Homo sapiens: one gene and its partners. The protein of the gene in region 1 interacts with the protein of each later gene in a pairwise test. Each region holds a gene or a part of one and is shown in the gene's direction. Other genes may lie near its edges. The genes, in order: PLEKHB2, UBAC1, YOD1 and GLIS2.

Region 1 (7,035 bases):
TAAACGTTTTCAAACATAAAAAATAGGGATGATGGTATAATGAACTATCATATGTCCATCACTGGCTTCAGCAGTTAACCATATCATGTCTAATCTTTTATCTCTACCTCAGCCTCCTTTCTCTACCTCTGGATTAGTTTAAGGGACATCCCAGATTTTTAATCATTTCATCTGTTAATATTACATTAAATCTGGATAGCATTTTGCCAAGTTGATCCCAGAATGGTTTACCAACTTATAATGCCACTAGCAGTTACTGATGCAGTGGTTTATCTGTGATCCCATAAAGATGGCCTGTTGTGCTCTAAAAGTTTTGATAGCTTCAGTAGGTCTCAAGTGGAATCATCGAGTTGCTTTAGTTTATATCACCTTTTATGAATAATTTTCCTTTGCACATTTTTCTGTTGGGATCCCATGGGATGGAGAGTTTTAAGCCCTAGCCTTGCCACATGAGAGCCAGCCTCTTTCTCAGCTTCCAGCCCACAGAATAGGGCTGTTGCCGCTGTTTCTTACTGTATAGAGAGCACAGATATTGCAGACGTGGTTGTTTAGGGCACTTCTGGAAATGAGTCCATCCTTGCCCTTGGCTCTCGTCAGTAGAGTAGAAGTAGCACTCTCACAGGCAGTACTCGGAATGCTTGCCGCCCACATAAGGGGCTGAGTCAGTAGGCATTATGGCCAGCCTGCCTCAGAGTGGTGACCAGGCAGCCCCCAGACTTGCTTGCTGTGGAAGGGTCAAATGGGTTTGTGGTCGATACACAGCAGCTTGTGTTGACAACCAGATGGGTGCTTTGCCACCTCCATGCCATCCTGTCTGCCAGGGTCTCACTGCCTAGAGCTAGTCCACAAGAACCCTCCTAGTCATGCACAGAGCTGGTTAAGGCTCTCTCTTCAGTGTGATTGGGACCAGTGGTTGGTCAGCCAATTGAGAAAGTACAGAGTACTGTAGACGTATTGTAAACATTGTGCTGTGATTTAACCCGCTAGTGGGTGTTCGTTCGGCTCTCCTATAATGTGGGGTTGAGGTGTTTGCTTTGAGTTGGCTCCTTTGGTTGGAGTCTTCTATTTCTGTCTTGTAGAGACCATCCTCATGACACGTCATTGCACTGCAGTTTCCAGGGGTAAGTCCAAGAGCAGACTTCTAGATTTGGGGACTATAGTCCTCCCATCCTCCCATCTTTTATAGTTTTCTTAATTCCCTGATTTGATGGTAATTTGTAAAAGTAACCTTCCTTTATTTAGTTTTTCCTGTAGTATCTTAGTTGCCATAGAAACTGTGTCTGCCTTTTTCTCATTCACATTTTGACCATTTATGTAATATTAGTTAAATTAGGCAATTATAATAAGTGTGACCTGGAAGCATCCACAGCTGACTCTGGCAAGGACTGAGCTCAATGCAGGAGCAGAGCTCAGCAGGAGCCACAAGAGAGTGGCCTGGTCCTGCAGCCAGGGGACCTCAGCATGACTTGCAGGGGCATCAGAATGTAGATTTTCCATGGGACCTTTTCATTAGGTCAGCTCACAAGTTCTATTGTGTTACATTTGGCTAGTTGGAGTTAACATTACTGAGCATTTTAAAATGTCAGGGCTGTGAAAGTAAATGCCGTAATTCCCTAGTTTTGAAATTTAAACATTGCAAAAATAATCACTTGCTTCCAGTACTGTTACCTGTACCAGATCAGCCCTTAGATTTACGATGGTTTCATTGTACTACTCTGTGCCTTTTGAGTTTTGTCATTCATCATCCTCTGTTGTATTTGAGGCATTAGTGGGTATAAATGCATACTGTAGCCAGAGTGCCTGGGTTTGTGTGCCCTTACTGTCCTTAACTGCTGTGTGCCTCAGTTTGCCCATCTGCAAAATAGGGATAAAAGTGCACTCAGTTGAGTAAGAGCATTCCAATGTATGTAGTGCTGTAAGTGGCTGGAAATGTTCACCTTTGTTACCACTGCGGGTTTCACTTCTGCTCTTCATCCACATGTGCACATCACTAGTGACTAGTTTTTTTTCTTTTCTTTTTTTGTGTGTTTGAGACAGAGTTGCACTCTGTTGCCCAGACTGGATTGCAGTGACAGGATCTCAACTCACTGCAGCCCCCGCCTCCCAGGTTCAAGCAATTTTCATGCCTCAGTATGGGATTACAGGCATGCGCCACTACCCCTGGCTAATTTTTTTTTGGTAATTTTTTAAGAGACAGGGTTTCACTGTGTTGGCCAGGCTGGTCTAAAACTTCCGGCCTCAAGTGATCCACCTGCCTCAGCCTCCCAAAGTGCTGGCATTACAGGTGTGAGCCATCAAGCCTGGCCAGCCAGCCTTTGAACCATTAAAGGAATAGAGGATCAAGGAGGAAAGTTAACGCTATTAATACCTGAGCAGTTTGAAAGCTACTTAGCTACTAGGCATTATAGCTGTGAAGCATGGAAGAGAGCAAACAGTATATTTCCAGTTGTAAATTTTAATCTTGCAAATTAAATACTAAATTTGTCTGTGGTTTGTTTTTTTGAAGTTTTCACCTCTAACATAAATATTTATTTTTTCTCTATAAAGACATGCAGTAAAAAAGAGTAGGCCGGGCCGGGCGTGGTGGCTCATGCCTGTAATCTCAGCACTTTGGGAGGCCGACGCGGGTGGATTACGAGGTCAGGAGATCGAGACCATCCTGGCTAACACGGTGAAACCCCGTCTCTACTAAAAATACAAAAAATTAGCCAGGCGTGGTGGTGGGCGCCTATAGTCCCAGTTACTCAGGAAACTGAGGTGGGAGAATAGCTTGAACCTGGGCGGTGGAAGTTGCAGTGAGCTGAGATCATGCCACTGCACTCCAGCCTGGGGACAGAGCAAGACTCCTTCTCAAAAAAAAAAAAAAGTTATATGTGCAGATTTAAGGCTTAATTTAAAAATTGGTTTGCGTGCATACTAAGAAGCTCATTTGCTTTAAGTGAGCATTTCCTTTTTGGGCTTTTGTTGGGCACTGTGTGTCTCCCATGTTCCCCATTTGTCTGCCACCCAATAAGCATGGTGTCGAGGGCTGAAGTAGAAATCAGAGGCTAGAATCTGAAAGCTTCATTAGGGTTCTGCTTTTTGCAGATTAGGGACTTTGGCCCTTAGTGAGCTGAGGATCTTGGTTTCCTCCCAGTGTGCGGTTTCAGGGATGTCGGCCACATGATGTGCCTGTTGTGGAGGAGGGCTGGGTCGCCAGTGTGACAGGAGACAGCAGATCCCTTTTGTGAAAGGAGAACTGGTACTTTGCGTGATGTTAAACTTCACAAACCGCTGCTCAGAAATCTGCTATTTTCCTTCTCTTTTAGGACTTTATGGACAGCAGCCTGCTAACCAAGTCATCATTCGAGAGCGCTATCGAGACAACGACAGCGACCTGGCACTGGGCATGCTGGCAGGAGCAGCCACGGGCATGGCCTTAGGGTCTCTATTTTGGGTCTTCTAGGGGCCTCAAGGTCTTGATGTGCATAGCTTCTGATAACCCTGTGTGCAATAATATGATTTGCAGGGCATTTCTGTTTGTGACAAAAGTTTTTAATAATAGTTTTAATCATTCCTTTGAAAGTAGTGATGTCATAATTGTACTAATCCACATAAGTACCACAGAGAAGGGTTTGAACTGTGCTATTTTGTTCAAATGTTGACTCTCCGGGGGCACTGGCTCATTCCAAGACTGTTCTTGTGCAACTCTCAGAATACCTTATTTGAGCATACCTGTTTTGAAAGGCATTTTCTTTTTAGAGTTAGGTGTAGTGCTTAAGGGTTAATTTATTTTCATGTTATGCCAGTAATATAGTGTTGTATGCCTATTGAGTGATTGTGGCAAGAAAAGCTACAGCTTCTTTGCGTTTAACTTTTTCAAACCACAGACCAGAACTGGTTGCATGTTACTTTAGGAGTTGTGGGTTGGTAAGCTCCCAGGTACTTCCCGAGGCTATGGTGTGAGAGCCCCCGTCCTGCCCTCTGGGGCTCCACAGGCCCCTGGCAAGGCCGATGGCTCAGGATGATGGGGCACAGCCCGCCTTTGAACAATCATGCTTCAGAAATCTGCCTGACCCTAGCTGCTGCTGCTGCTCACTTTATTCTTGTATGGCTTTGGTAGGCATACTTGGAGAACATATCCCACATTAGGAATTGATTTAAGCCTGAGAGTTTGAGGGCTTTAATCCTTTAAAACTTGGAGAAGCTGGCTGGGCGCGGTGGCTCACGCCTGTAATCCCAGCACTTTGAGAGACCGAGGCGGGCGGATCACGAGGTCAGGAGATCGAGACCATCCTGGCTAACACGGTGAAACCCCATCTCTACTAAAAATACAAAAAATTAGCTGGGCGTGGTGGCAGGCGCCTGTGGTCCCAGCTACTCGGGAGGCTGAGGCAGGAGAATAGTGTGAACCCAGGAGGCGGAGCTTGCAGTGAGCCAAGATAGTGCCACTGCACTTCAGCCTGGGTGACAGAGTGAGACTCTGTCTCAAAAAAAAAAAAAAAATCCTGGAGAAGCCAGAACAATATACAAACAAGTATGTGGAGGCAGATTTGCTTTATTCCAAGAGGCTGTTTGAGTGTGTGTCTGCCTAAGCCTCCTTATAGCCTATTTTTCTACTTGCTGAGAGAGTAATATTAAAGGAACAGTGAGGGAGTGGAAGGAGAGCCTTAGTTAGAGCGTTCCCATTTCTGGCCTTTGGGGGTTTGCACTGTGCGGGAGATGCTCTCTCATCACTCTGAAGGCCCATCCTGTGCAGAAGTGGGACTCTGTGGCTGTTCACTGAGCACCAGGGCAGACTGTAGCTGAGCAGACTTGGGTTATGGATGGGATATGGGGCCCAGGGACCCTCAGGACACAGGGACCGGCTCAAGGTACCACTCAGCCTGGCCAGGACCCCCAGCTTTGCTTTTGTTCTTGATCTCTTTGTGATAGAGAAGCTTAGAACATTGAATTTGGAACCCCAAAATGTGTGAGTCTTTGGAAAACCCATTCCAGCCTTTCTTCAAATGCTCTTATTTTCAGTATATGAAGTGTGTATTTGAAATATTCATATTTCTGTTATTTCTTGTTTTCAAGCTCTGAATTATTGCAGTTTTCTGTCCTGCATGCTTTCAACAGTGTGCTTTTACAGTGGCAGTTTAGCACAGCGAATGTCCCTGCCCCACACTCCATATGGTCCTGTTTTCCTGAAAATACACTCCAGGTAGCACAGACTTGTTATTTTGCCTGGCTGGTTACACACATGCTGTCTTGCTTTGCTGCTCAGCCACCTCCCTCTGAGGCCAACTTAGGCCAACCTACATAGGACTCCATCTTTAGCGAGACACCAGAGACACCTAGTGATGACCACGGGTCTGCTTTTCTCTCTGATCCTAGGGGACTTGTTGACATGGGAGTGTCTGTTTCCACATGGAAGGATGTCTGTTTATCTCTCATCTCTGAATAGATGTATGACAACTCTAGTGTCCATGGTTTAAAATGTTGCTTTGAGGATTTTCCATCCTGTATAAGAAGAATGGCTTTCTTCAGATTATAATCGTTATTAAAGCTGTATGTACACTTTACTTAAAAACTATTAACAGTTTTTCATGTTGCACTGGTGGTAATTTTGAACTTGGAATTACTGGGTGGGAATTCCAGGAACCACAGAGTATTGATTTTTGCTGCCAAAATGCTCTTGAAGCAGATGTCCCTGTGCTCCCCTGGCTGCTTCTGGCTGAAGGGGGGAGGTGTAGACTGAAGCTTGGGCACTCATGTGTGTCCCCTCCCCAGTCCCCATCCTAGTGGGGCCAGTCTCATTAGGCAGCCATAGATAAGCCTGGAACTTGGCTGTCATTAGTGACTTGATCCTGGTATGAAATGCATACTGGGTATAAGGTTGCTCAGGTATTTTATTTCCTTGGCCACAACTCCCATAGATGCCAATGTTTTGATAGCCTCAGTTTCTCAACGATGTCTTTTGTTTACAGTGCTACACTTAGTGTGAGTCAAGAAGTGCTTGAGTTACAAGAAACTTCTTATTCAGGTTTGAGTAAGCATTTTACTTCCATGTGTACTTTTAAATAATCCATACCTTGAAGAAGTTGGCCAATGATATTATATACATGCTGATCTGATTGTTCTTTTCATTCCTTGAGTCAACTTCAGGGTCTTGGATACTAAAGAGAAGGAGAACTGTGGTTAATGTTTTGGATCATCATTTGTGAACAAGGCCAGACTTTGCCCATTTTAGGCTATCCAGGACTTAAGGTAGCCATCTGGATCATAAGAAGGTCCTGCAGTTGAGACAAAATGACCCAAGTGTATTTTCCACAAGTTTTGATCCTGTGTAATATTTCTTTTTCCTTCCCTAGTGTATGTAGATACAAGGCATGGAATGCAGTTCCACTTTCTCCCCAGAGTTGATCTTTTTGTGATTGCTTTCCCGTCTCTAGTAGTATTCTGTTGTGTCTAGAGAACTGATTTTTTCCTACATACGCAAATTGTACATTTGTAAGTGAAAATGTCAATACATTAAAGCATTAACCTTAAAGCATGTTTCATTGTGACTTCTGTTGTCTTTAAAAAATTACTTTGTAGTAACATACTCTCAGCTTTTTCTGCTGTCCTGGATCATAAGAATGCCATTTATTGAGGACCTACCAAATGCTAGTATATTGTCACATTAGAGACAACTCACTGAATTCTTAGTGACTCTGTAAGGGAGGTATTATCCAAGTTCCACTGGAGGGACCGAGGCTCAGAAGTTAAATAATTTACTCAGGAGCGTGCAGGTAGTAGGTCTCCACATCTGATGTTAAAACGCCTTGTTGTTCCCTGTGCCGTGTGCATATGAGAATTTGATTTCCACAAACAGCAGTGGCCCGTGCAGTCACACTCTTGGGATGGCTGTGAGAAAACGGACACTATTTTTCCCAACCAGATCCCTCTGGCAGTGTGTGTCCAATAACTTCTCCAGCATCTTTGGATATATGACTTTTTTGTTTTATTTATTTATTTATTTATTTATTTATTTATTTAGAGACGGAGTCTCACTCTGTTGCCCATGCTGGA
Region 2 (7,035 bases), on another chromosome or scaffold:
CTTGTACAACAGGTAGTTAATGAGTTTTAGAAAATTATACCTGGCTGAGCACGGTGGCTCATGCCTGTAATCCCAGTACTTTGGGAGGCCAAGACAGGCAGATCACAAGGTCAGGAGATCGAGACCATTCTGGCTAACACAGTGAAACCCCATCTTTACTAAAAATACAGAAAAATTAGCCGGGCGTGGTGGCGGGCACCTGTAGTCCCAGCTACTCGGGAGGCTGAGACAGGAGAATGGTGTGAACCTGGGAGGTGGGACTTGCAGTGAGCCGAGATCAAGCCACTGCACTCCAGCCTGGGCGACGGAGAGAGACTCCGTCTCAAAAAAAAAAAAAAAGAAAATTATACCTGTGGTGCAGTAGAGTTTTTGGTGTGTCGTAAACATTCATGAAATTCCAGCCTGGCCAACATGGCAATACCCCTTCTGTACTAAAAATGTAAAAAAATAGCCTGGCATGGTCGCGGACTCCTGTAATCCCACCTACTCAGGAGGCTGAGGCACAAGAATCGCTTGAACCTGGGAAGCGGAGGTTGCAATAAGCGGAGATCGCGCCACTGCACTCCAGCCTGGGTGACAGAATGAGACCCTGTCTTTAAAAAAAAAAAAAAAAAAAGAAGGAGTTCATAAAATTGCCAGACTAGAAGAGAGTACCCGCTAGTATAGCTGTTAAATTTTCCATTTCCTAGATCGCATGAAGATGGGTCCTCAGATGGCAGGTTGCATCAGGTACAAGCAGAAACGAAGTCACTACTCTTCTGGGGAGGAGCAGGATGGAGTGGGGTGGGGGTGTGAGGGCCTCCCTACTCCAGCGGCCTTGGTTGGGGCTTTTTTGCTGCCATACCCCAGCTTCTGCCGAGAACAAAGAAGCAGAGTGACACGGTCGTCCTAGTGCTTCCGTGTTGTTCCTGGTGTGCTGGTGACACGTGGACTGTGGGTTTTTTGGGAATCAGTATGAGAATTATTTTGGAAAACTGCATTTCGTAGTCTGTATTCTGAACTTGACAAATGAACTAGCCTGCAAACTTTAGGATCATGAGGAAGCACCCCCAGTATTTCAGGGAGCAGAGCCATTGTCAAATCCAGAGGCACTTGAGGGTTCTCTGCCCTGTTGTAAATGGCAGGAGTGTGTCTTCCTAGTAGCTGCGTCCCCCCAACATCCCCTCAGCCTGGCCAGTTTTGTGTGAAGGAGTGAGCCCCTGAAGCCGTCAATCCCTTTTTCAAAACCGTTTTCAGTCTTGAGAGTAACAGAAATTCCAGTTACTCTGAAAATGCCAGTGTTGAGAGGTGAAGTGTGTGCTTAGATTTTCTTTCCCAGCAAGCAGTTGTGTGTGCTGGGTGTTTCAGAGCCTCTGTGGCAGCAAAGGGTGGTGGAAAGTGAGCTGCCAGCAGGGCGTCTGCCCGGCCACCTGAGACGTCCGAGGACGGCCTGTCCTGGGGTGGTGCCCCGGCCCAGCTCCAGGCTGGGCCATGCTCCTGACCCACAGGCTGAGCCTGCTACCGGGTTTAGAAAGTGCCCAGTGAGGGTTTCATCCTTTTCTGATAGTCAGGTAATTCTACCATCAAACCTCAGGGGATCTGTAAGAGCAAGAAAATAGTCAGCCTTCTCTCCGTCCAAGCTCTGAGTTCTGAAGGGTTTTCAGGCCAGGCTATGGAAACTGTGGGTATTTTGTGAAACACAGAAGTGCAGCCCCTCTCCTCTCACCCCACGATTCCGGCTGGGGAGGCGCCATATTTGGTTAGGTGGGCACTGTTTGGTGTGGTGTGCGGTGCTGTGCTGTGCGGTGGTGTGCTGTGCTGTGCTGTCGTGTGTCGGGCTGTATGGTGCTGAGGTAGATAATAGAGTGGAGTCGTGGAGCTCTGGACCGACTTGGGCACGAACATGCAGGCACATGTGCCGACCTCAGTCTTCATCACACGGCACCATCAGTGTTTGCCATTCTTCACAAAATGGTGAGCCGACGCGCCTAGCCCCCGTGTTCAAAGGAAAGCAGGACTCCCGCAAGCCAGTGCCACGTGCATGAATCAGGGACAGCTGTGTGCTGTTTTGCAGAGAGGATGCTGGCCGAATTGAGGAGCAGGATCTACCCCTGCCAGCAGTTGGCTGTGAGATCTTTGTAATGGCAGGGTTGGAAGGGGTCATGGCCGTCTGCTCCAACTTCCTCCTGGAGTTTGCACTCAGTAGCTGTCAAGATGGCTTCCCAGGTCCCCCGTGAGCGCTGCTCGGAGGTGGCTGTGGTGTGTGTGAAGGGGATCCCCTCACTGCTACCCATGTGTTGCCTCCCGTTCCCTGCCCGGGTGTGGCAGGGTTTCCAGGGCCCTGGTGACTGCGTGCCCATTGGTCCACCTTCAAGCCGCCCAGGGGTGCAGCATGGCTGTTGCTTCGTGAGCTGGGCCACGCCGAGAGCAGTCATGCTAAGTGCCCCTCTTATCCCAATCTCGGGATGCAGCATGGCTGTTACTTAGTGAGCTGAGCCAAGCTGAGAGCAGTCATGCCGAGCGCTCCTCTTATCCCCATCTCAGGCTCTCTGTGAGCCAGTCTTCTTTCTGGGCAGCCTTTCTGGCCCCTTTCATGCGTCTGTGGAAAAAAGAAAAACAGCTACCCAAAACTTAGGTAGATCTTTAGGTCATCAGGAAACAATGGATCTGCTGTTTTCATTTAAAATTATTTTCCAGATCTTTCTAGACCAAAGAAGCAATTCTGGTGGCCGCGAATTGTCAGTAGGGTGTGGTATATCAGAGCTGGGAGCTTGCTTCAGGAGTACTCCATGGGCTGGGGATCAGCTCACTGGTGCTATGATGCTTCATTTGGCATCTACCATTAGTGGGAATTCTTTAATTTCATCCATGGTGTAATTTCTTAGCTCATAAGAAAACCCAGTAAATTCCTGGTGTAGCTTGGGATGCCAGGTCCTATATTATTAGAATTACGATTTACTTATTTTCTACCTTGAAATTTCTATTTTTCCCCAGTGTGCTCATGGGAGCTTAGAAGATCCCAAAAGTATAACCCATCATAAATTAATCCACGCTGCCTCAGAGAGGGTGCTGAGTGATGCCAGGACCATCCTGGAAGAGAACATCCAGGACCAAGGTAAGGCTGCTGTGGGCGGGCGGGTTGGCAGCAGGCATCGTGCACTGCTGGGGGCGCTGGAGCCAGGAGGGGGTGGTCCACCCACAGGAGTCAGTGTTCTGAGCTGGACACGAGCACAAAAACGAGATCGACTAAAAGCATTCTGTTTTTCCTTTATTAAAAAGAGTTCTGTTATAGAGTATTTGTGAAAAACAGCAGAAATTGAAATTGAACAAGCAGCAGGCATTTGAGAAGCCAAATGTGAATTTTGCTTTTAGTTCTGTTTCAGAGCAAAGCCAGAGACTCCAGGGGTTCTGCAGGTTTCACCTTCGTTGTGGTGATGTTGGCATCCCAGTGCAGTGTTAGACACACACATCCATGTAATTGCTTATGGTTTTGTGTCTGGAGGCACTTGAAGAGCAGACATCAGTTTTGTCTGTGTCATTCAAATAATGCCTTTAATTGTGGAAGTCCTTGAAGTAAGCTGTTTTGAAAATCCTGGAAGTATTGCTAACAGATATCCGCTGAGATGACCATCAAGCTCCAAGCCAGTGGGGGATGGGCACCGTCGTGGGCCGAGGATGAGCTGCATCTCAGGTTTTGACCTCTGAGGGTTAAGACTAAACTCTCCACCCTCACAGACTTTTTCAGAACTGAGCCGGTTAAAATGCCTGTTGCAGGATTGTCACCAATTCTTTGCACAATTATTGGGGCCGTGCTGTGCCTGCCTCCTGGGCCATGGGTCACCTGGGGGTTCGTGCCAGGCCTGGGAGCTTGTACCTCAGCTAGGGCCATGCAGATATCATGCAAAAGTGAGGGAAGGCTGGTGTAGATGCTTGGTTTGGGGGGACCAAAGGAACCCATGCTCTTTTGAGACAGGGTGTCGCTCAGTCACCCAGGCTGGAGTGCAGAGGCACAGTCAGGCTCACTGTTGCCTTGACCTCCTGGGCTCAAGCAGTCCTCCCACCTCAGTCTCCCAAGTAGCTGGGACTACGGGCATGTGCCACCATGCGCAACTATTTTTTATATTTTCGTAGAGATGGGGTCTCGCCATGTTGTCCAGGCTGGTCTTGAACTCCTGGGCTCAAGTGATCCGCCTGCCTCGTGCTGGGATTACAGGAGTGAGCCACTGCACCCAGCTGAAGCCCTGCTCTTCTTCTTTTTTTTTTTTTTTTTTAAGATGAAGTCTTGCTCTGTTGCCCAGGCTGGAGTGCAGTGGTGCAATCTTGGCTCAGTGCAACCTCCGCCTCCCAGGTTCAAGTGATTCTCCTGCCTCAGCCTCCCCAGTAGCTGGGATTACAGGCATGCGCCACCACGCCTGGCTAATTTTTGTATTTTTAGTAGAGATGGGGTTTCACCGTGTTGGCCAGGCTTGTCTTGAACACCTGACCTCAGGTAATTTGCCCGCCTCAGCCTCCCAAAGTGCTGGGATTACAGATGGGAGCCACTGCGCCCGGCCGAATCCCTGCTGTTCTGTTCTCAGGGCATCCAGCACCCTTTATGCCATTTTGTGGATATGAAGTGATAACCAGTGTGTTGGATATACGTGTTGTTTTTTCTAGATGTCCTATTATTGATAAAAAAGCGTGCTCCATCACCACTTCCCAAGATGGCTGATGTCTCAGCAGAAGAAAAGGTAAATTTCAAAGTTTGCAATTGGGGACCTTGGTTGGTAGAAGTCTACATTTAAGAATTACAGGCTGGGTACAGTGGCTCGCGCCTGTAATCCCAGCACTTTGGGAGGCCGAGGCGGGTGGATCACGAGGTCAAGAGATCAAGACCATCCTGGCAAATATGGTGAAACCCCGGCTCTACTAAAAATACAAAAAAAATTAGCTGGGCATGGTGGCTCATGCCTGTAGTCCCAGCAGCTCAGGAGGCTGAGGCAGGAGAATCTCTTGAACCCGGGAGGCAGAGGTTGCAGTGAGCCGAGATCGTGCCACTGCACTCCAGCCTGGCGACAGAGTAAGACTCCATCTCAAAATTAAATAAATAAATACAAACTTAAAAAAAAAAGAATTATAAAGAAGTTCTCTATACTAGTTGTTCACCAACCCACGCATTCGCCATTTACAGTAGATGTGGTTATAAGGGGTTCTCTCTCCCGGCAGAGCCTGTTTAATCCGTGTCAGTCCTGGTCCCTCCCTGCTCACGGGACCAGCACGGAAAACCTGCCTCTGAGTTTTCTGAGACAGAGAGGAGGGTAGGGACACATCCTGCGTGACGGTTCACTCCCGCGCTGCTGTCCGCCTTCACCTGCGTGTGCTCCTGTTCCCTCCTCTTTTCAAGCAGCCAAGTCAGTCCTGACAGAAAAACGGAGGAAAGTGGGTAACCAACCACCACACAGAATAAGGGCTGCGCATGCAGAGAGTGGCCGGTGAGGGAGCACTCGCGACAAGCCCCACCTCACACCGCACAGCCTCAGCATCCCCATCGGAAAATCCAAACGCAGAAATGCAGCGCAGTCTGAAACTTTTTGAGTGCCAAAATGACACTTAATGGAAGTGCTCGTTGGTGCTTTTTGAGTTGATTATTTGGAATGCAAATATTCCCAAATCTGAAAAAACCCGAAATCCGAAACAGTTCTGGTCCCGGGCATTTCAGATGAGGGATACTCAGCTGCACTGTTAATGCTGAGAGAGGCTGAGTTCTGCCTGTCTTGTCTATTTCTTGCAAAACAGAACTGGATGTCGTTGGTGTTTACATTCACTCACACGTTATTGATTCATGGTCTGCACCGTCCACTTGCACGTGTACCTTAGGAACACCGTGCAGTGTGTTGTTTACTGGCTGCCCTAGAAGCTCATGTTTTGGAAAGCTCACTGAGCAGAGGAAGATGCGTTCTGCAAGTGGCGTGTCCTACCCCACAGCAGGGCCTGAGCCCGTGCCGAGCATGGAGCCTGCCAGCTAGAAGGGCAGCCACTTTCCTCTGCTGTCTTTGCATTACTCATCTCAAGGGTAGAATTTCTTACTCGTGCTTTGAAAGGCTAAGGAGAGTGTTCACCCCAGAGAAAGAGCAGGTCAAACTCTTTTGGGCTAGGCCCATGCCTGGTAGTGCATAAGCTATTTTTGGGTTTCATCTGGGACCATGGGTACCCAGGAAGAGCACCCTGGGCTTGGGTCCCCTCCTTATCTTCAGCCACACCTGGCCACGCATGAGTGACACACAGGCTGCCGCCCCACCCATCTGCAGCGGACAGATCTGGGCCTGCCTCCGCCTGTCCCTGAGTCAGGCCTGTTTCTGGGAACTGCTGCAGGCAGCATTCACAGTTCTCAGATTACAGTTTGACCGTTGGTGTTCAGACTTACAGGCCCGTAACTAATATAAACAGCGGGGTCTGACCATACACCCGTTGCCCCACAGCCTCTTGGATGGGTAGCTTGGAGCTAACCTGAGGAGCTTACCTTTTCTCTTCAAATATTTGCAAACTGAAACATTGTAAGATGTCAGTTCATATTTTTATGAATTAATTATTATTATTTTTATTATTATTTTATTATTTTTGAGACAGAGTTTCGCTTTTGTTACCCAAGCTAGAGTGCAGTGGCGTGATCTCAGCTCACTGCAACCTCCGCCTTCCAGGTTCAAACGATTCTCCTGCCTCAGCCTCCCAAGTAGCTGGGGTTACAAGTGCGTGCCACCACGCCCGGCTAATCTTTTGTATTTTTAGTAGAGATGGGGTTTCACCATGTTGGCCAGGCTGGTCTCGATCTCCTGACCTCGGGTGATCCACCTGCCTCGGCCTCCCAAAGTGCTAGGATTACAGGCATGAGCCATTGCGCCTGGCCTACATTAATTTTTAATTTAGTTTTTGTTTTTGTTTTAGAGACAGGATCTCACTCTGTTGCCCAGGCTGCAGTGCAGTGGTACAATTATAACTCACTGCAACCTTGACCTCCTGGGCTCAAGCAGTCCTCCTGCCTCAGCCTCCCGAGTAGCTGGGACCACAGGTGTGTGCCAC
Region 3 (3,706 bases), on another chromosome or scaffold:
AACAATTATCAAATTGAGCTTTATGCATCATTACTCAGAAAGCTTGCCTTCCTTTCTTTGCTACTTCAGGACACAGAGTTGACATTTGCTTACTACAGCTTTAGATCTAGAAGTTTATTCGTGCAACAAATATTTATTGAGTAATTTATACTGTGCCAGGCATGTTTTGATATGTTTCTGTCATATGTTTTGATATGTTCCAACATAAGTTTCTGTCACTTTATATTCAGTATATATTTTCTACAGTGGGTAAATTTAACAAATGGAAAGGAATAGAACACTGATATTTTACAGAATTAAACCCCTTCATTGTAAGGGCTTTGTTTACATATTAAGTGTCAAGTATTTATTCAGGGGATCTTATTTCATTGTATTTTATCTGTTATCTAGGTTGTCCATTTACCGGTTGGACACTGATACTCTGTCAAATTCCTTTCAAAAATGACTCTTTAGTCTGCTGAAATTTAGCACTAGTACTTTAGTGTTCTGATCCTGGAAAATTCAAGGTGAAGCTTTATTTGTGGACCATCTGATTTAATTATTGAGGATTAAAAACCTAAACCTTTGCTCATTCTAAACTCAAGCTTTTAAGCCTCACAGAATTTACAGGGGTTTGCTTTTTGTTTGTTTGTTTTTTCATTTTTTACTGTGCTTATTAAACTCTTGGAATTAGTTATTAAAGGGAGTAAATTCTCATCTTGGGAATTTTGAAAATCTATGGACTTACAACTTTCAGGAGGATTAAATGTCTTAAGTTTTGTACTAGAGCAGAATGAAATCTTTCCTATTCATTGAGTTTTTGCCTGCCATAGAGGAATTTTTTTAAAAATTAAAATGACAGTTTATATTAGTGGCAAAGTGAATAAAGACCTCACTTTCCCACCCCACCCTTCTTCCTTTCTCTTACTTTTCTTTGGATTAAAGGTCAGGTGTAGTACTATGAAGATTCACTCCTGAATAAAGTGATTTCAGAAGCTAAAATTTAACATACCTGGAAATTTTGTGATGTGTTAGCCAAGTGAAGACATTAGTGTGTTCCATCTTTTGCTAATGGTTCATGGTTGATTTCTTCATTGTTTCCCATGAAATTAGCATAGTCAAGTGGTACCCTTGACGCTTGACTGCTGGTCAGTTTGACCCTGTTTTTAACAACTAATGTAGTCATGCCGCTTGATTATTCCATGAAGTCCCAGCAAAATAATAATGAGGAATTAACTAACATTATGTTATCTATCTAATTTGTCTGTGTCCCTAAATGCCCATGCCTAACTTGCTTCTCTAGTTTATTCCTTCTGTGGAGGGATTAAAACGTGGGTGTTGCAAGTTGCCCTAAGCTAAACATAGTTTTCTTACATCTTTTTGGGAAAAAAAATGGAATGGGAAGTATGCAAGATTAAGCAAGAGTGATTTTTTTTTTTTTTTGACAAATCAGGTGGCCTTCCTAAACATACTAAGAATTATGTTCTTTCATGTGTGGAGACACATTTGTTTGCAGCACTTTAAAAAATATATATGGAATAAAAGTTTACATGTTGGCCCTCTAGGGATCTAATTAAGGACATTAAAGTACAATTCTTGAGCTACTAACCATCAGCTCTTCTTAATCAAAGATTGCCATCAGTGTAGAGTGTATCTATTGGCACAACATTCTGGTGTTTTGATAACAGTAGAACTCAATTTCAGTAACTATTAGGAGCATGGTCTGTGCCCTAGCATTAAAAATGTTACTTATTATTATGTGAATATCTTGTATTATTATACAATGCAGTATTCAAATTTGTCCTTGTAGTGCAGAGATGACTGATAATTTCTAAAAGATTCGATCCTTAAAACTTGTTTCCAAGCAGACTTATAAGGAAGCTGATTTTTGAGTCAGAGGCCTTAAACGTGTCATATACAAGTGGCATCATTTTAAGTCCAAAGTGAAACACTTGATTTGAATAAGCTAGTTTATAAACTAAAGCTGTTTTCTTATGTTACAGTATTTCAGCACATTTCATTCCACATAAAAAGAATATTAAGTGTCCCTGGTTGTGGGAGAGTGTTTATTTTTCTCAAAATTATCTAGCATTTTGCTTACAGTGCTTTGAATGTTTGACTTAAAATTATTATTGATGTTGAATTGTAGGGTGCTGATTTAGGTCTTGATTCATACACATTTAAAGGAGGTTGGTAACCCCCTCATGGTAGAGTGAAGGGAGAAAAGGGCCAAGAAGACAAAGTACCACTGATAAAGAAGAGATTGTCAAATAGATGCATTCCTAGTCATGAATTACCCTTTTCCAAACATTTTTAAAGCAATGCCTTTGTGTCAACTCAACCCTTCTTCCCCATTTCTTGTCATAGAATGTAGCATGGCCATAGGTGAAAAAGCTTATCATTAAAGTATGAAACCATGAATTATAAGCATTTTGCCATGATGCCCTTTTATACATATGTTTTTAAAAGTACTAACCAACATATAGGAGTTTAGGAATGGTGAAGATATAATTTGATTAAGTTGTAGGTAAACAGAAAGGATCATCTTAGGCTCAGAATTTCTAATATGATTACATGAGTCTACTTTATAAACTGGTATAGGCTATGTAATTAGCCCGTAAGTTACTTAAAGGACCAGGGGACCTAATTTTTGTCAGTTTTCCAGTCACATTGGTGCCATTCAGGACTCCAGCTGTTTACAGGAAATATGTACTTAGCAGAATAGTATTTTTCCTTGAAAAAAATTTGAATTCAGCCTAAATACAGAATGAATATGAATAGTTTGTGAAAAGGGTTAGAGAACAACAATATTCCTATAGTTTCTGTATTAATGCAGTAGAGACAGAGGTTCCTAACGCAAAAAGAAAACCACAAGTAAAGACCGTCAAATTAGAGCTTTAGAATATGACTTGAAAAAGTAGGGATGGGCAAAACAGCATAAGAAAATATTTTTTCTTAATGCAGATGGACAGTGTTTTCTTGTTTTAAAAATGTTTTGCCTATTTGCCAGCATTTTTTGAAGTAATACACTGCTGCTACCTGGAAGATGTCTAACTTCATTTTCTACAACTCTTATGTGATTTTGCCATTGTCATTAAGATGCATTGATTTTATTTATGAGGTGTATGACTTTAAATATCTAAATGCTGTATTAAGTGACTTGTTTCAAAGGAATAAATGAAGTGAAAACGTTGTTTGAGTATATTTTGGGATCAGGGCAGATATGGCCACTGAACGGCTATTTTACTCAATATACATATTATCAAAAGCTTACCGAATCTTTAACTAAGGTACCAAAATCTGCCAAATATCACCCTTTAGGCGGACTCAATGAATGAGACAGGAGAAACTAAGGTATTTCTCCTTAACGAAAGGTTGAAATTCCCATTCATTGACTAAATTTTTTTCTAAATCCAATCCTACAAGTTGTAATTCAATATTTGTTGCTGACAAGTTGTCAGTGTGGAAAGGCTTAATATTTATTTTCTAATAGACTGCAATCTTTGTGAACTTAGATCTGTTTGAAAACAGCAACATCACTATAGGAGGGTTTATTTCATCTTTGGCAATGTCAACATTTAAACATGTATTTGAAGCAACCCTGTGGCTATTACAATTGGCCAGAGTTCAGGTTCCCTAACTAAACTAAACTATTTAACCCATTCTTTCTCATTGAAAGCTTTAAAATTATGGACGTGGAAGTATAATAATATCTAATCAGTTTGTA
Region 4 (7,035 bases), on another chromosome or scaffold:
AGGTTCCTGCCTCTAAGGGGAGGCCCAGGGGTCTCTGGCACCTAAGGAGGAAATTGATTCCATGGGAGAGGCCCTGTGCTGGGTGGAATTGGGGCGGGGGTGGCTGCAGAGAAAAGTGTCCCCTGAATCCCTTCCTCTCCTCATGGCTATAATTGTTACTTTATTTCACAGCAGGTGACTGAGACCACAGGGGAACCCCGGAAGGTCCTGGGTGGTCTTCCCCTCACCCAGATAAATGCCCTTCTCAGGGGTAGGGGGCATCCCCAGCTTGGCGGGGCTGTGTATTGAGCAGTAAGAGACCCTCTCCCTGCTGGCTAGGGGATCTGTGGGACCAGCTGAAAGATGCTCTCCACCCTCTGCCTAAGTTGCCTCCCTTCCCAGGGGCTATGAAAGGGTCCACAGAGATGGGTTGAGGCCCTGATGTGTATCTGGGGGTTCACGTCTCTGGGAACTTGCGCCCTGCCCCAGCCTGCTGCCAGCCCTGGGTGTGGGGACCACAGCCCTAGCGAGTCTCCCGGGCCACATCTGCCTCTCAGTGGTTTCTGAGGTGGCCGCCTCCGCCCCACCCTGGTGAATTCTAAGTCAGGCGTGGCTGGGGGCGGGGACTCCGCGCTTCCAACAAGCACCTCTAGTACTCTGCTGGGGGGCCAGCGTGGGGGCACTGCTTTGATCCCAGGGACTGGAGAGGGATCATGGTGATGATGGTGGCAGGGTCTGCAGGGCACAGCCTGGAGGAGACCCAGGTTTCTCTCCTGGCTCCGGCTTAGCCCCTGGGTGAGGCTGGGCAGGCACGGAGGCCGGGTACTCGCCTTCCACTCCCCCACTCCCCCAGATGGGCTGGAGGATTCTGGTTAGCTGGTGGCCAGGCTAAGTGGGCCTGGGGGGCATGGAGATGGGAAGTGATTCCAGCTGAGGGGTGGGGGCTTCCCATCTGCCCCAGCAGCCCCTGCTGGGGGATGGGTGGGGGCTGAGACTCTTCCAGTTCGATGGCTGGGGGGCGGGTGACTTGGGCTCCTCGTGCCCTTTGTCTTCGGTGCTTGAGAGGCCAGGTAGTGCCCACCGCAGGGAGGGGCCGGCCTGTGAGTGTCACATGTGCGTGCACACGGACTCCAGCCTTGGCAGATGGCTGCCGGGGAAGGGACGGAGACCCAGCCCTGGCCCCTTCCTCCAGTCATGGCCAAGGGCGGGTGGGAAGCCAGCAGAGGCCCCAGGAGACCGCTGAGTGGACTGAGTCAGCCCCCGGCCGGGAGCCTCCGGAAAACAGTCCTGCCCGTCACATGGAGGGTCCCCACCGCTGGCACAGCACGCTCCCAGGGCAGCCTCGCTTGGACCCTGGTAGTCAAGAGGTCGTCGGAGGCCGGTGGGGGGAAACTGAGGCTCTGAGACATTTGAGGGTTTGGCCCGAGGTCACTCCCAATCGGGGAAGAACAGAGGGGAACTGGAGTCTGGGGCTGTCTGGCCCTGACCCCTGAAATGTCGGTTTAGCCTGGGAATCCCCCCAGCTCCACTCCTGCCCCCCACGTCCACTGCAAGGGCATGACGGGGGCCAACGTGTCTGGAAGAAGCCTCTCCCCTTCCCTGCATCGTCTGCCTGGGGCTGTCTAGCAAGTCCCGGCCTGCCTGGGCCAGTTCTCCCCTGGGCCACTCCCACCTTCATCCAGAGCCCCCATTCCCCACCCCAACTTCCAGGCAGACCGACTCTGAGCTGGGATGTCCCCTCCCCGCAAGGCTGTAGGGGCCTCCATTGTCCTCCCTATTCTGAAGTCCCCCCAACCCTGTGCTGGTGCTCGTCTCCCTGCCAGCCCCGGCCTCCCCCAGCACCCCCCGGAGCACCTAGTGGTCACCCTGCTTGGTTCTAGGGCCACTGGGCCCCGAGGGCCTGGAGCCACCAGGCCTGGCAGATCCTGCCAGTGGGTGTTCCCCTTTGGAAGGAAAAGGACCTCGATGGCTTTGGAGGCTGTCCCCGGCTTCTGGACTTGCTTTCTTCCAGAGTAGGCGAGCAGAGAGGGGCGGGTGGCTGAGGAGGAGGGCATGGGCTGGAGTCCTGTGTGTGCGGTGCCCTGCTGGGCCTGCTCTTGCCCAGCTATCTGGGGCTGGGGGCCAGGGCTGGGAGGGCGTGGCAGGAGATGGAGCTGGGGGGGATCTGGGCCCTTCCCACCATCCCAGCTGGCCAGGGTGGTTCCTAGGGGCCACCACACCCTTGTCCAGCTCTGTTCCTGGGTCCCTTGCCTGGGACAGGGAGAAAGAGGCATCTATGTCAGGAGACCAGCCCCTGCTTCTAGCCTTGACCTTGGGCAAGTCACATTCCTCTTTGGGCACGAACCCCTCCATACCTACCCCTCCCCTCCTCACTTGGGGGTAAAGGCGGGAATGTCTGTCGAGTGAATGAATACATGAATGAGACGGACTCATTCGCGGAGTGCCAGGTGTTGGGATATGTGAAGGGCAGGTACCACTGTGCCACCTAAGATGAGTGGTTGGGGTTGTTGGAGCTTCGGCTGTCCTCTCAGCAGGCCCCCTCCTGTGGATGGGGAAACCCAGGCCTAGTTTTCTCATTCTGGGTTCCCTGCCTCACTGCCCAGTTCACTCTGGTGGATGGGGTGGGCTCCGTGCCAGGGGCCGTGGGAACTGGGGCAGGGGTCTGCTGGTGAGGCCTTCTCTTCAGTAGCCACAGCGGGTTTGGAGCTGCCCGGCGTCCCAGACATGTCCCGGCCCACTCCCAGGCTCCCTTCTTGGAAGGAGGCTCTGGATACCAGGGCCAGTGGGAGGCCTGGGGCTGAAGGTCGGCGCTGTGTACACCACGCTGTGCACAGGTGACACTGGCTTCAGTGATGCATTGGCAAGGACTTGGACCCGGGACAGCCTGCCTCCAGCGGGGGTGGACAGAGGCAAGTCTTTGCCCAGCAGGCCCTCAGGTACCTGGACCCACAGCCTGTGTGCAGCTCCAGAAACCGAGGCTGGGGAGGGTGAACCAGGGAGCACTTGGTGGAGGAGGGGGCAGAAGGGGATGGTGGCTGGAGGAAAGAGAACAGGGGGGCATGGATGGTGGTGAGGGAGGAGCTGGCACCTGGGAGCATCAGGTTCCCAGGGGGCAGGGGATCCTGAGGAAGGGGGGTGCCAAAGGAGAGGGCCTGGGGCAGGAGGCTCTGGGCTGAGAGAGCAGGTGGCACTCTTCTGTGTAGAGCCCTCTGTGGCTCCCCAGTGCCCTCTAGGTTCTGTCCCAGCCTCTCTGAGGGGCCTCTTTCTCTCCTGCCTCCTCGTCTACTCCATGACTGGTAGGGTCACTGCAGATCAGCCGGGCCATAGCCTCTGGTCCTCTGTGGCACTGGGCTTTGGGGTCTGCTGGCGAACCCAGCTGTGCCCCTTGCTGGCTGTGACAGTGGCAGGTTTCCCCACATGGAAAATGGGGAAAATGGCATCCATTCGCGGGGTCATCAGGGTGATGGACTGTGTGCAGCAGGCATGCTGACCGGGCGCCGACCCGCAGGGCTCCCACCTCCCCAAGGCTCTTCACCCCATATCCATGAGGCTGACCCGGATCTGTGCCCAACCCCCTGCAGGAGCAGCCCCCCCCCTACACTGTTTCTCCCACCCCACCTTGGTCGGGGCACCCTCAAGGTCCGGTTCGATCTAGCAGGGCCTGGCGTTGGAATGCATGAATGCGTGGTTGGAGAACCGAGGCAGGAGGGCAGGCCAAGGTCCACCGCCCGCCTTACCCACTCCTGCTCTCGGAGTTGGCGGGTGCCGTTCCCAGTGGACCTGGTACCTGGCCCCAGGCAGGGGAGGCGTGGGCCACGGGCCTGCCCCGACCCCCCAGGACTTAGGAGCTCCTTGTGGGATCTGCCTGCAGCCAGGCGTGGCTTGGGAGGCGCGGTGTTTCCTTCGCTCTGGGGACCCGGCCTCATCCCTGCTCTCCCCCAGAAGCCAAGGCTCCTGAGTCCTGGCCCCGACACTGGGGCAAGGGGTTACTGTGATGTCCTGTGTGTGCCACATTTGTGCACAGGTGTCTGTACATCCGGGGGTGCTGTGGGTGCCTGCTCATGTCCTGTGCTACACTGGCCCATCCCTTTGCTGGCCTCAGATAGCTCTGGCTGGGTCTGCTGAGAATGGCAGTGCCGCCTGGCAGGGCCTGGGCTGTCTGTGCCCCAGCCTTGCTGGGCGTGCATCCCTGTCTCGCTCCCTGGTGCCAGCCCCTCCCAGGGATTTGGGTGGCAGGGCCCAGTGCTCTGGTCCCCTCCCCTCCCAGCCCGGGTGGGTGGGCAGGTGTGGGGGCTGCGGGGCGGGCTTTCCTCTGGCTGGGGCCCAGGTGCAGGCGGTGATCATAGCTCCAAGCACCCCCCCAAAGCTGGGCAGACAGGAAAATACCAGACATAGTTGTGCAAAGGTGCAGCAGCGGGCAGGCAGCGGGGGGGTGGAGGCCACTGCAGCAGGGGCCCGGAGCCACCAGGATGGGGAGGCCTCTGTGCCAGGCCGGCCCTGCAGCTGGACTGCCATGGCCATCTGTGTGAGTGTGCGTGTGTGTGCCGGGGCTCCCGGAGCCCGGTGTCACCCTCCCTGCTGGCGTTGGAGAAGGAAGTGCCTCTGGTGGGGCATCTCCTAGGAAGCCCGGGCTGGTGCAGGCCAGGGAAGCCCTCCGGCCCGTCTTCCAGCTTCAGCTCTGCCTGAATTATCTGGGTGACCTTGGCAGGCCCAAGTTGCTGTGCAGGGAACCCCCAGCCTGGGGCCGGAAACAAGAATCCTTTAGGTTACCAGTAGCTGGCAGCTTCTTTATGGCAGGCATGAGGACAAGGCCCTCCCTTGCAAGATGCCCTGAGTCCCAGGGACCATTGCCGTGGTGTCTGTTACCTACAAGGAAACCAAGGCTCAGAGACAGCAGGGCCTTTCTGAGTTCCCACAGCCAGGGGTGGCACAGGGGGCTGTAACCAGGCAGCCTGGCCCTGGGGCACACTCTGTGAACACGCAGAAAAAAGATCCCTGGCACATCCCATCTTCAGGTGCTTTCCCGAGGACCCCACGGCAGAGGGCAGAGGTCAGCCCTGGCTGGGTCACCTCGGACCCCTTGTGTTCCCACCCCGGGAGGGGGTCTGCCCTCCCAAAAGGTCCGGGGGTGCTGGCTGAGTGCCCCGTCTTGGGAGGGGGAGGGGCTGCCTACTGAGCCAAAGGTTCCCAGGGACGGTGAATCCCCCACTCTTCCAGGAAGTGCCGCCTGCCCTGGCCCCTCTCCTGGGATCTGCTGGGCCAGGCCTCAGGATAAGCTCCTCCCCCTCCAGTCCTGGGAGGAGGCCTGTCTGCGGCCAGCTCCTTCCAGGGTTGATCAGGCCTTCCCGGGGCCTTGTAGTGCTCTTTCTTTGATGCAGTTGGGCTCTGGAAGGTGGTTAGGGCCAGCTGTGGTCACTCCCCAGGATTGAAGAGGCCTGAGGTTCTTTGAGGGGCATAGGCTTGTTTAGGGTGCACGCTGGCTGGCAGGTGGCAGAGCCCAGGTTCTCCTGGTTCAGGGTGAGACTGCAGTGGCATAGAGGGGATGGCCAGTCCCCACTCAGCTGCCCTCACAGCGGTAGATGGGCCAAAGGCTATGGACTCATGCACACTGGCGACGATTCATTCAGCACGTTTTATTAAGCACCTACTATGTGCCAGGCACTGTTCTCCGTGCTGAACGTTACGGACGAAGGAGAAGCACTCAATAGTGATTGGATGTGCAGCACTGCATTGGTTTCTCCCTGAAACCCAACATGGGGGTCCTATATAATCCCATTTGGGATGAGGGGGATGAGGCGCAGACTGAAGAGACACGCAAAGGGAGTAGCAGAGCCGGGTGGGGCCCCAGATTTCGAGTCCGGTTCTGTTGCCTGGTCAGGAAGGGGGGCCCTGAGAGGACGAGCCCTCCTGCCTGGGGCCCCCAGCAGGCCCTGCCCCTGCCCGCCAGCCCCTGCTGCTGGGCGGCCAAGGAGGGTGGAGCTCTTGGCCAGAGCAGGGAGCCGCAGCTGGTTCCCAGGAATCTGGGGCTGTGGGGCCGTTTGCTTTGGCAGCAGATCTGCCCTCGGCTCTCCAAGCCTCCTGGTGGGCCCCCCACCCCAGCCAGCCCCTCCAGCGCCCACCCACTGCCTGCTCTGCTATCCCTCCTAGCCCCACAAGTCCCTGGGCGGGGAGGGGGTACCAAGCCTGAGCCCCTGACATAGGAAGGGCCAATAGTGAACATGGCTTCTGGACTTACCTGGGGTTGAAACCCAGCTCTGCCACGGACAAGCTGTGGGACCTTGGATGGGTCACTTCACTCCCCTGAGCCTCAGTTTTTGCATCTGTAAAATGGGGATGAAACAGCACCTGCCTTCACAGTACCCGCACCTGGCTATGGGTACTGTCCTCATGCTGCTTGCCCGTGGCTTCTGGTTGTGGGTTTGCCACCTACTTGTGCAGCCTGGGCTGGATGCCTCCCCCTTCAGCCCTCAGTTTCCCCATCTGTAAGACCATACTGCTGAAGTGATGGTTCCAGTAATAGACTCAGGGACACCCACAGACCAGGGTTTCTCTGACTGGTTCAGGAGTGACCAGGGACTCACTTCCTCTTTCTGTTAAATTAGAAGATGACGGGCTGGGCGTGGTGGCTCCTGCCTGTAATCCTAGCACTTTGGGAGGCAGAGACAGGAGGATGGCTTGAGTCCAGGAGATCGAGACCAGCCTGGATGACACAGGGAGACCCCCCCATCTCTGCAAAATAAAAAATTTAAAAATGAGCTGGGTGTGGTGGTGGTGCACCTGTGGTCCTAGCTGCTCTGCAGGCTGAGGCAGGAGGATCTCTTGAGCCTCGGCGGCAGTTAGCCATGACCACGCCACTGCAGTCCAGCCTGGGAGACAGAGCAAGACTCTGTGTCTTAAAAAAAAAAAAAAAAAAAAAAAAAAAGGCCAGACTTGGTGGCTCACGCCTGTAATCCCAGCACTTTGGGAGGCCGAGGTGGGCGGATCACGAGGTCAGGATATCGAGACCATCCTGGCTAACACGGTGAAACCCTATCTCTACTAAAAAAATACACACAA

What was found.
Region 2: the proteins of PLEKHB2 (region 1) and UBAC1 interact in binary tests that used the Homo sapiens proteins (3 or more experiments, as listed by UniProt).
Region 3: the proteins of PLEKHB2 (region 1) and YOD1 interact in binary tests that used the Homo sapiens proteins (3 or more experiments, as listed by UniProt).
Region 4: the proteins of PLEKHB2 (region 1) and GLIS2 interact in binary tests that used the Homo sapiens proteins (3 or more experiments, as listed by UniProt).

The regions. Positions count from the first base shown.
Region 1 is NC_000002.12:131,143,329-131,150,363, forward strand, and holds the end of PLEKHB2 (pleckstrin homology domain-containing family B member 2), read left to right. Parts: intron 1-1,079; coding exon of another isoform or gene 1,080-1,121; intron 1,122-3,308; coding exon 3,309-3,445; 3' UTR 3,446-6,517; downstream 6,518-7,035. UniProt on the Homo sapiens protein: Involved in retrograde transport of recycling endosomes.
Region 2 is NC_000009.12:135,951,354-135,958,388, reverse strand, and holds part of UBAC1 (ubiquitin-associated domain-containing protein 1), read left to right. Parts: intron 1-2,973; coding exon 2,974-3,094; intron 3,095-4,635; coding exon 4,636-4,709; intron 4,710-7,035.
Region 3 is NC_000001.11:207,043,314-207,047,019, reverse strand, and holds the end of YOD1 (ubiquitin thioesterase OTU1), read left to right. Parts: 3' UTR 1-3,171; downstream 3,172-3,706. UniProt on the Homo sapiens protein: Hydrolase that can remove conjugated ubiquitin from proteins and participates in endoplasmic reticulum-associated degradation (ERAD) for misfolded lumenal proteins.
Region 4 is NC_000016.10:4,319,056-4,326,090, forward strand, and holds part of GLIS2 (zinc finger protein GLIS2), read left to right. Parts: intron 1-5,592; exon of another isoform or gene 5,593-5,720; intron 5,721-6,214; exon of another isoform or gene 6,215-6,299; intron 6,300-7,035. UniProt on the Homo sapiens protein: Can act either as a transcriptional repressor or as a transcriptional activator, depending on the cell context. Acts as a repressor of the Hedgehog signaling pathway. Represses the Hedgehog-dependent expression of Wnt4.